Regions from separate parts of the Homo sapiens genome. Here region 2 is reported to be linked to region 1. Evidence: microRNA targets listed by miRTarBase, many of them from high-throughput screens and not tested one by one. Region 1 holds a microRNA gene; the other region holds the end of a gene's coding sequence.

Region 1 (5,377 bases):
TCAGTGAATTTCTTTGTATGTGGGGTGAATTCAAAATCTAAGTGAGGTAACTAAAGTATATCATACATATGAGGTGATGAATAAAGAAAAATAATTTTAAAGGAAGATATAAGTGCTGATGATAAATGAGAAGGATGGAAAGTAAACCAATATTTATTGTTATCACATATCACAATAAAAACTCCACTCTAAAACAGGATTATGGATGAAGGAATTCCCCACCTTATGAACTTATTTATATTAGAGCCACAGAAATAGCTCAAAACTATCCATTTTTATTTCATTGGTGGCTGAAATGATGCAAGGAATGTGGCAGCAAGCCCACCTGCGATTTCAATGACAATATTAGCAGGGGTACTCTAAATATCTTGGTGCAAAGAAACATTAACAACCTCTATGACATTCTGTTGGGTATAAAAATGGAAAGTGAGATTTAATGAATACAAGCTATTGATCAGAGGTCAGTGTCTACATTGATACTGTTAATAATAATATCAAAATAACAAAAAATAAACTAACCACTACCACCACTTACTGAGTTCCTACTATTTGCCAGGCACTTCTTTTTATATACATTATCTTGCAATAGCCTTATTTATCCCTGTTTTTAAGGCTGAATAAAGTACAACTCAAAGAGGTTAAGTACCATTCCCAGAGTCTTACATAAGTAACAGAACTGGAATATGAAAAGCCTCATGTTCTTTTAAGTGAATAAAATTTTCTCAAACTTGCATTTTTAAAATATTTTCAGGGACATATTCGTAGGTATCCCATGAAAAAAGACCCAATAAGCAAAGAGCTGTGGGGGAAAAAAGTCATACTATTGCATGAGTCTTTAAAAAAATTTCCAAGCATATTAGAAGAATAATGGTTCTCCATCTTCTTCATGATGTGCTTATTTCACATTGCATGCCTGTATCGAAACATCTCATGTACCCTATAAATATATACACCTGCTATGTACCCAAGAAAATTAAAAATAAAAAAATTAAAAAAGAGTAATTGTTCTAAGAAATCCCACAGTAAATAACTGACTTAAATAATAAAATACCAACCTGATTTGAACATATAATTCATTTTGCAAAAACATTTATTAGTATATTTGAAGCTGTGTTCTGAAAACCACTGATTCAGAAAATCTCATTAGTGAAATGAAACCAAAATATACACTGACCACATCATGATTTTATATCTGAATTGCAATACACAACTTTCAAAGTACTTTCAAAATAATTATCTCATTTAACGCTTATAGTAATCTAAGGCAGACCTGATGGTAATGGTATTATCCTCGCTTTCCCAATCAAATATTTTCAAGTTCATTGAGGCTATGAGTTTACCAAGATCACAGCTACTAAATGGTAAAGGTGAAAGAAGAACTGTGGTCTTCCAACTTCTAGTCCAGTGTTCTTTATGTTATACTATACTACATTGCTAAGGTACTCTTTGCGCTTAGTCTCAAAAATTAAGGTTAATTTACATGTTTGAATTTATACTAAGTAAAACATTGGTGATAAGATTTGAAATGTTGCTTAGTTGTCAAAAAAAGTCTTATAATTTGTTCAACCTAGAGATAAGAAAAAGCATCTTAAAGTCCCCAAATCACAAACTGTAAGACAAAATTTTATGCATTGACTATATCAAGATAAAATATTTCAGGGTAGTAAATTACTCCAGTCAACTTACTGATAGTAGATACTTGCCATGTCTATAATTCCGAGGGGCTAATATTAGGTTGGTGCAAAGGTATTTGTGGCTTTTGCATTACTTTAATGACAAAAACCACAAATACCTTTGCACCAACCTAATATCTAGAATAAACACCAACAAAAAAAACTCATATGAACCAACAAGAAAATAAAATCGTAAATTTAAGAAAATATAAGAATAAGCAAGTCAGAGAAGGGAAAATCTAATATCCAATAAGCATGAGAAAATATGTTCAAAATCACTAGTAATAAAAGGTATATTAAAACAATGCTTTGCCACTTTCCATTTATATTTGCAAAGATTAGAAAATTTTATAATGTTATATATTGACAAGGATGAGAAATCAGATTTCATTTATCATTGGTGGGCATGTAGACATGTGCAGCCATTCTGAAGAGTAGTGTGACAGCAACTAACCAAATTAAGTGCATGCATATGCTATGACCTATTAACCTGGGTTAATACAGACCTCTCCTGGGTCTGTAACCAAGAAGAATTCTCACATAGGATCATAGGAGAATATATATTTATTGTAGCATTGCTTGTGATTATAGAAAGTTGGAAGAAAACTAGATCTCTCTCTCTCTCTAAAAACACAGATGAGTAATACATGGTGAATGTCACTTGTGGTTTCTGCTCAGAGATATAGAAAGTTGAAAAGAACATTACACCTCCTATGCTTACAATAAGAAATGTCAGAAACACTGAAAATTAAGGACTTTTTGTGAACCCATCAGAGAACTAAAGTCAAAGGCCAATTTACCCAAAACCTTGGAGAGATTGGCTCCTGCAAGGAAAAATTAGACTCTAGCACTGGCTTATCTGGAGAAGATGTCAGTGAATGTTATACATTGAAGGAGACGCAGTTAAAAAGTTTTAACAAACTGCTAAAGACTAAGAACATGAGCTAGGATTAGAGTGTAAAGTCTTTAATGGTGTAAATACAGTGGGGTTAGCAGCGCGCTGAAAACTTTCTCATCAGGAACTTTACCAGGTGATCACAAGGAAGTGGGGAAAATCCCAAGAAAATTGGCTTCACAATACTGCCTAGGGGAAGGGGATAGGGGAAATTATATTCAGACCCATCTTTCTTAACGCACTTATGAAAAAAAAAAAGCTTTAATATTCAGTAGGGAGGAACAACAAAACTGTACCCTTAGGACTTCAAAACAAGGAATGTTATCAGGTATAAATAGAGATAGTAGATAATAATAAAAGAATCAATTCATCAAGAAGGCACATGCTTCCTAAATACATAAAATACATGAAGCAACACTCACAGAGCTGAAAAAACAAATAGCCACATCCACAATTAAAGTTGGAAACTTCAACAATTTTCTCAAAGGTATTGATAAATAAGTAGGCAGAAAAACTATATATATAAACTATATATAATATATAATGATATATATAAACTATATATATATACACACATATATATATATTCTGAGCAACACTATCATTGATATTTATGGAACAATCTACCTAACAATGGCAGAATGAATATACATTCTTCTGAAACGTACATGGGGCACAAACAAAGGTGGATGATATTCTGAACCATAAAGGAAAGCTTATAAATTAAAATAAATAGAAATTATACAAAGTGTGTTCTAGACTAGACAAAGTAAAAATCCATTACAGAAAGACAATAGGAAAATTCAAGAACATTTGGGAATTAAATGCCAAACTTCTAAATAATCCATATATCAAAAAGGAAGTCTTAAGGGAAATTAAAATATTTTGAACTGAATAAAAATTAAAATATAACATATCCAAATCTGTAGGATGCCACTAAAGTGGTGCTTAGAAGCAAATTGAATGCAAATAATAATTATAGAAAAAAAACAAAACAAAAATCTAAAATCAGTAGCCACCCCGAGTAATAGAGAAGAGGAGTAAATTAAACTCAAAGTGAACAGAAGAAAGTAAATAATACAAATTAAAGCATAAATCAATTGAAAATAACAAAACTAGGAAAAAATAATGAACAAAAAGATGTTTCTTTGAAAACATCAATAAAATTGTTAAAACTCTAACCAGAGTAACTAAAATAAAAAGAGAGAAGACACAATTACCAATATCAGGAATAAAAGAATGAACATCAATATTGACTCCACAGATGTGAAAATATAATAAGGAAATTATATTAACAACTTTATAATAATAAATTTAATACTGAAATGAAATGGACCAATTCCTCTAAATCTGCTGTGGTAAGCAGAATAATGACTCTTCAAAAAATGTTCATTTCCTAATACCCAGAACTCACGAATCTATAACTTTACTTGTCAAAGTCACCTTGAATGTGTGAGTAAAGTGAAACATCTTGAAATGGAAAACTTATTCTGGATTTTCTGGTTTAGTCCAACCCAATCATATAAATTCTTAACAGCAGAGAACATTTCCTGGATAAAGTCAGAATGAAAGATAAAGTAGGCAGAACAGTGTCCACACCCAAAGATGTACATATTCTAAACCTTGGAATTTATGAATATTTTACCTTACATAGCAGACAAAGTTTGCTGATGTGATAAAGTTAAGGATTTTGAAATGGGAGAATATTCTGAATTGTCCAATGTCCCCTATGTAATCGCAAGAGTCTTTATAAGAGAAAGACTGGAGGGTTAGCATTAGAGGAGGACAGGTAACAACGGAAAAAGGAGTCAGAGTAATACAGGACTATGTTCCAAATAATGCAGGTAATCTCTAAAAACTGAAAAAGGCAAGAAAATTAATTTCTCCTTAAAGCATTCAAAAGAAATGCCATTAATGCTGCTGAACTACTTTGGACATCCAAGTTTCAAAACTGTGAGATAATTAATTTGTATTGTTTGATGCCACTAAGTTTGTTAAGATTTGTTATAGCAGCAGTAGAAAACATACAAGATGTGATGATAGAAGACAGCCAGAAAGAGATTTGATATAGCTAAACTTGAAGATGGCTTCCTTGAAAACAAACAATGCAAGTGGCCATTAGAAGCTGGAAAAAGCAAAAACAACAAAAACAACAACAACAACAACAAAAACAGATTATCCCTTAGAGCCCCCCAAAATATAAAAATAAACACAGTCCTGACAACACCTTGATTTTAGCCCAATGAGTCACATGTCAGACTTCTGACTTTCAGAAGTGTAAGATCATACATTTGCATCAAGACACTAAGAATGTGATGATTTGTCACAGCAGCAGTAGAAAAGTAATATGGTCATAAACTACTAAAGCTCATCAATAATGGAAAACAACAAATAGTCCTAAATCTTAAAAAAAAAATTGTAATTGTACTTTAAAACCTTCCAATAAAGAAAATTCTAAACTCAATGATTTCACTGACAAATTCTACCAAACATTTGAGGAAGAAATACTACCAATTCTACAAAATTTATTCTAGAAAATAGAAGAGGAAGAAACACATTTGAACTCATTTCTTCATGGCATTATTATTCTTTTACCAAAATCACATAAAGACATTGAAAAAGGAAAATATTAATATCCTTCATGATAATGGATACAGAAATTCTCAACAAAATATTAGCTATTAAAATTCAGAAACATATATAAAAGGATAGTATAACTTGAAAAAAAAGGATTTTTTCAGGAATGCAGGACTAGTCCAAAATTGAAATATTAATGTAATTTGCCTTATTAAGTGGCTGCAAATGAAAA
Region 2 (5,000 bases), not on the chromosome of region 1:
TCAATTCCTTTGGCTTCTAGAAAATGTTTGGTGTTGTTTTGTTGTTTACCATTTCTTACTATTTAGTGCTTGTCAGACATTACTTACTTGAGGCAGAACATTTGTTTGCTTCACAAGGAAAGGTCACTTATTAAATAAAATGGCATGATTTCTGGAATACACTAATGCTCCTTATCTTAATTGACTTTGGGAATGAGCCTTTACATGAGTTTTTTACCTCCCTGGATCATTTTGAAAAGGTGTAAAATGCTTCCAGAAACGATTTTGTAGAACTAAACAGATTTCATATGTTGGAGAAAAGCCTGACAAGAGGAGGATTGGGTTTTACCAGATTTTTCTATTATAAGAAACTTGCATGATTTAAATATTTTCAGTATGTCCTTTGAGGAAAAAAGCAAACACAGTGCTACCCAAATCATTACTAAATGTCTCTCATTTGGTTTCTCATGTTTCTCTCTCTTTTTCTTTTCTTTGCAGTATTGACTTGAAGCTGAAAGAAAAGCCTTAGTTGGCCATGCTGGAAGAAGAGGATGCTTTTCTGGTTCATGGTTCTGTTGAAACATATCTACCTGAAAGAGACAGGGCTGATGTTACCTTTTTCCACTTTGCACTACCTGGTGCCATTCTAAATTTCTAAGGGGAAAAATAGAAAGTTTGTTTACTCTTAAGATATTTTATGAAATTGTGTGTACTTTCCTATTTTGCCAATTATGTGCCTCAAAGATTTTAGTTGAGCCTTAGCAAGAAAGTAGGACCTTCCATTTCAATACTTCATTAACACGGTGTAGTGATACTTTGTCCCTTAGACTGGTGTTTACCAGTAAGATACCTTTAATCCACTGTTAAGTATGAGTGGATTTGTTTCCATAGATTAGCTGGATTTCCTTTTGGTGATTGCATTAGGTTTAAAGTACACAGGTCTCAACTCTCCCCAGGAAAGTTTCCCCTGTTTGACTCCACCTTTAAAATCCTAAGCCTGACTAGGACAGCCACAAACCACACAAGGTGTAAAACCATCATCAGCTAAGTGCCCGTTTTGTTCTTGTTTACCAGAATCTCCTTTAACTTCTCAAAGGGAAGCCGGGCTTTCTAATCCACGTCAACTTTATTTTAGTTGTCAAATTGGGCATTATATTTTATGTAAATTGGTCTTTTAACATCATTTTCCTGATGAATGTTGGTGACCACCACATTGTGAAATTTAAGAATCCGTGTTGCATGTTTGGTAGCTCTCTGAGTTTCAGGCCATAAACTCAGCTCCAGAGGTTACCTTTTAAGTGCCAAGAACTCAAGTGCAAGGTGGCCTACTCAAAAATCATTTGGTAGCATTCAGTTATTCATGAATTCCTCTCTCGCATGCATTATAAAAAGTGATCTGCTTTAAAACACCGTAATCTGATCATAGGCTTAAAATTAAATATGAGTATTACTTTCATGTACAAAATATTTCCTTTATAGTCTTCATATGCCCTTTAAAATGCCAACAAGATTTCAAGTCTGTAGGCCTCTAGTGAGGTGGGGTGGCAAACCACAGCTAAGTCTCGCTCACCACTGCAAGCTAAGAATGGTTTTTACATTTTGGGTTGGAAAAATTTTTTTTGAATATTTCATGACACATGAAAATTATTCAAATGTTAGTGCCGATAAATAAAGTGGTACTGAAACACAGCCACACAAACTTGTTTTTGTACTGTCTACAGCTACTTTCACACTACAGCCGCAGAGCTGAGCAGTTCAGCAGACCGTATGTCCCACAATGCCTAAAACATTGACTATGTTTACAGAAAAAGTTTGCTGACCCCTGCTCTAGCAAACGCATCCTTTCCTACTCCACCCCAATTTGTATTTAGATAGTTTCTCTAACAGAACGGACAAATGAGGCTGCAAACTAATTTATTTTTGTCAAAAATCAATGTTTTGACATCCACAGACAGTGAAATAAAAGAAATGGCTTGCTGAAAAACATGAGGAGTCCTAGCCACAAAATCACTGCTTAGGTTGCAATTGCCAAAATGAAGCCTTCTTAGAAGCACTTCTTTAGTATATACAGGTGTTGGCTGAAGTCCGTGCCTCACTCTGGGAACCATTCTTAGTCTCCAGTGTCTCCTATTACAAAGAAGCTGGCAGAAATAAAAATGAAGGGGTGAGAGCGGTTCCACCCTAGTCTCATGGTGGAAAATTCATTGGGGAGAGCTGTCCAGGATATTTGGAGTCCTGGGTAGAAGGAGCTTGTAACTACTTTAAAGTCGACATCTTTGCACAGGTGATTGAGTTTCTCTGACCTCATTGCTTCACCTCTGTCTCCTCCCGTCCTTCCGCACGTGCCCACACACACGCAGTTCAGCCCTCTTTCCTCCATAAGCCTCCATCGTTTTCTCTTTTCTCCTCTTGATCCTTTCAAGCGAGTATCTTGTTGAATTGTATGTTCTGTTGGATCTCCTCCTTCATAACATCTGGCTTGTTGGACAGAAAAACCCTACAGCCCACCCCCTCCCACAGCCCACCTCCACTTTTGAAAGCCCAAATTACACCTCTCCCAGAACACAGTGTTGACGTAAATACAGTTACCCAATATTCCTGTTTGTTCACCTATTTGCTACTTTCACTCAGTAGCATCCCATTTTGTAAAATGAATTCCATGGTCACCCTGTCACAGGAAGTAATGAAAAATCCAGTGTTCAGTGTAGTGGTGCAAACCTGAGGGCATAGAGCTGTTCATAGAGGGCTCTTGTTATAGCCAAACAGACACAGCAACAATCTCACCATTTATATATATATTTTTAACTTGTCCAGCTCATCTATGGAAAACTACTCAGGTGGTATGCTGTTTGAAGCCTCATCTTCCTACATGAAAATTATGGGCATTTGTCCCAATGATTTTGTTTCAGCTGTTCTGTAGGCTGCATAACCACTCTGATATTTAGGTATCTGCTATTTTATTATCTTAAAAGACAAATTAATTTAATTGCATGTGCTAGGGAAAAGCTACCATGTACATTCACCCCAAGTAAATAGAATCCTAGATGAATCCTAGAAAAATAATCCCTAAGCAGATAGGTAGACAGAGGTAAACATTCACATGATTTAGCTCTCTAGCTCTTGCACTCTGAACATTCTTGCTTTGGTTCTGACTTCTGGGAACTGCTTTGCATTTCTCCTATAGATCTGTAGTTAAGGGAACCAAGGGGTCATTGGGGCAAAAGCATTGTTTCTCAAAGCTCCTTGATTAAGAGAAAGAACAGAAATTTGCACAGAAGATAGTGTCAAGGAGTGAGAAAGTTTGTTTGAGGGCAGTAGCTCAGTGTGGAAGAAAATCCTGAAGTTTCTGTTGAAGCCATACAATGTTCTATGGGGTTACTCTCTAAGACATTCTCTGAGGTGTGTGAGGAAGTCACTACTCCTAGCCTTTGTTAAGATGTAATTTTAAATATTCAGTTATGGTACTATGTTTGCAACTCTCGTCTTATCACAATGCCTCAGTAGTTTGTTCCCTTAGAAACATTTAGATGTGCACAAATTAATCTTTTATATATCTAAAGGTTTTTCTATCATGCATTGGATTGCTCAGAATAAAGTGTCTGTTAGACTTCGTTTTGGTAAATAAATTCTCCATAATGTAGATTAATAATATAAAAGTCTTTAATGACACAATATATCTATATAGCCTCACTGTATAATTCAGAAATAAAAATTGATTCTGCATGTGATGGTTTTCTTTCTTTGAGTCAGCAAGAATTTTTCTCTGGCTTCACTTTGCAGCAGTTTTATCTCAACATCAATCTAGCTTGGCACTTGGTACTGGAGGACTGTATACATTTTGGTTTTTCTGTACACCCAAACTTTATTCTCTCTTCATTTTTGCCTTTCCTATCTCAGAGTTCAATACACCGAGCTTTCAAACTGTTGTTTACTCTGTGGATAAGCGATTTCTTACTTTGGAAACATCTCCATGTTTCATGGTTACTTGATTTTTGTCTTTTCCTCTCTCTTCCCCTTGCCTTTTTATGGCATATATTTATTTTTAAATTAAAATGTTTAAATATCATTTTATTTTTAGTTGGGGTTTTTTCCCCATTTTCACAACCTTCAGGCAAAACCAGAGTTGAGAATTACCACTGTGCTATTTTTTTAACTTAATAAACACATGTGTACCTCTGAGAAAGTTGTTGGACTAGCCAAAGGAGAAATTGCTCTACAAGAAGTGAGACGTTGCATGTTCTCATGATCTAAAAATGAGTTCTGGTAGATATTGTCCTCTACCCAAGAAAGGGAAGAAACAGAAGAAAAGGCTGACAAGTAATTGCAGGCAAAGGAAGGACATTCAACTACAAGACGTACTGCTACATTCATTCTGCTCTCGTACCTAACTATGGTGGTGGAAACTGGAGGTGGGCTAGGTGTCCAGCACTAGGGAAAGGGCTGGGTAAATCGTGCTGAATACACCTTTTAGTATACCACAGCTGTGAGAAGCAACATACTATATGTTCATAAAGCAACACTTAAATCATAGGGTAGAGCGGAAAAAGAACAAACTCGATGTTTATAGCACAGTGCCACTTACATAACTGTTAAACATACACACACAAAACTACGTATTATCCAAAATCCATGTGTATTTAAGGACTTAACACACTCATTTGGGTAAGGGTAGGGCATGGAGATCAGTGATAAAGTTGGGAGCCTAATTAAAAATCAAAATCATAAGGGGCCTTTTATAAGCTGAAGTTAAAAATAAATAAAATGAAGACAACTTCAGTCGTGGAAGCCAAGACTTTCAGTCATAGATTACAGAAAAGCTGTGTTGGGGCACTGTGGATCCCTGAGGAGCCATTCCCTTCTACAGCTTCTCTTGTGTGTGCAGTGTCCCTGTGCTGGCTGTGTCCATGTGCTGCAGCGTGCCAGAAGCCCGCCCTGGGTTGCATCATCCTGTGCAGTCATGGAACTTTTAATTCAGAGCTGGTGCCTTTTGACACATCAATCCTCACACAGCTGTGGGCTTT

Evidence for each region. The annotated mature microRNA hsa-miR-548m reads CAAAGGUAUUUGUGGUUUUUG and lies in region 1 at 1,777-1,797, opposite strand. An mRNA with a match to its seed (bases 2 to 7 or 8) in the 3' UTR can be bound and repressed. Matches are read on the target gene's strand: a 7mer-m8 pairs with bases 2 to 8, a 7mer-A1 pairs with bases 2 to 7 and ends in A, and an 8mer does both.
Region 2: the mRNA of PRUNE2 is a reported target of hsa-miR-548m. Seed matches in the 3' UTR shown: 7mer-m8 at 592-598, 8mer at 827-834, 7mer-A1 at 959-965 and 7mer-m8 at 1,268-1,274.

The regions. Positions count from the first base shown.
Region 1 is chrX:95,061,416-95,066,792 of GRCh38, forward strand. It overlaps MIR548M (microRNA 548m), which reads right to left and starts at 1,811; the gene lies at 1,726-1,811.
Region 2 is chr9:76,610,078-76,615,077 of GRCh38, reverse strand. It overlaps PRUNE2 (prune homolog 2 with BCH domain), which reads left to right. Exons shown (of 19, transcript NM_015225.3): 19 at 478-3,702. The coding sequence ends at 508. The region is part of intron 5 of LOC105376095 (a long non-coding RNA gene); the gene reads right to left. Among named protein-coding and RNA genes, the nearest start is that of PCA3, 150 kb to the left of the region's middle.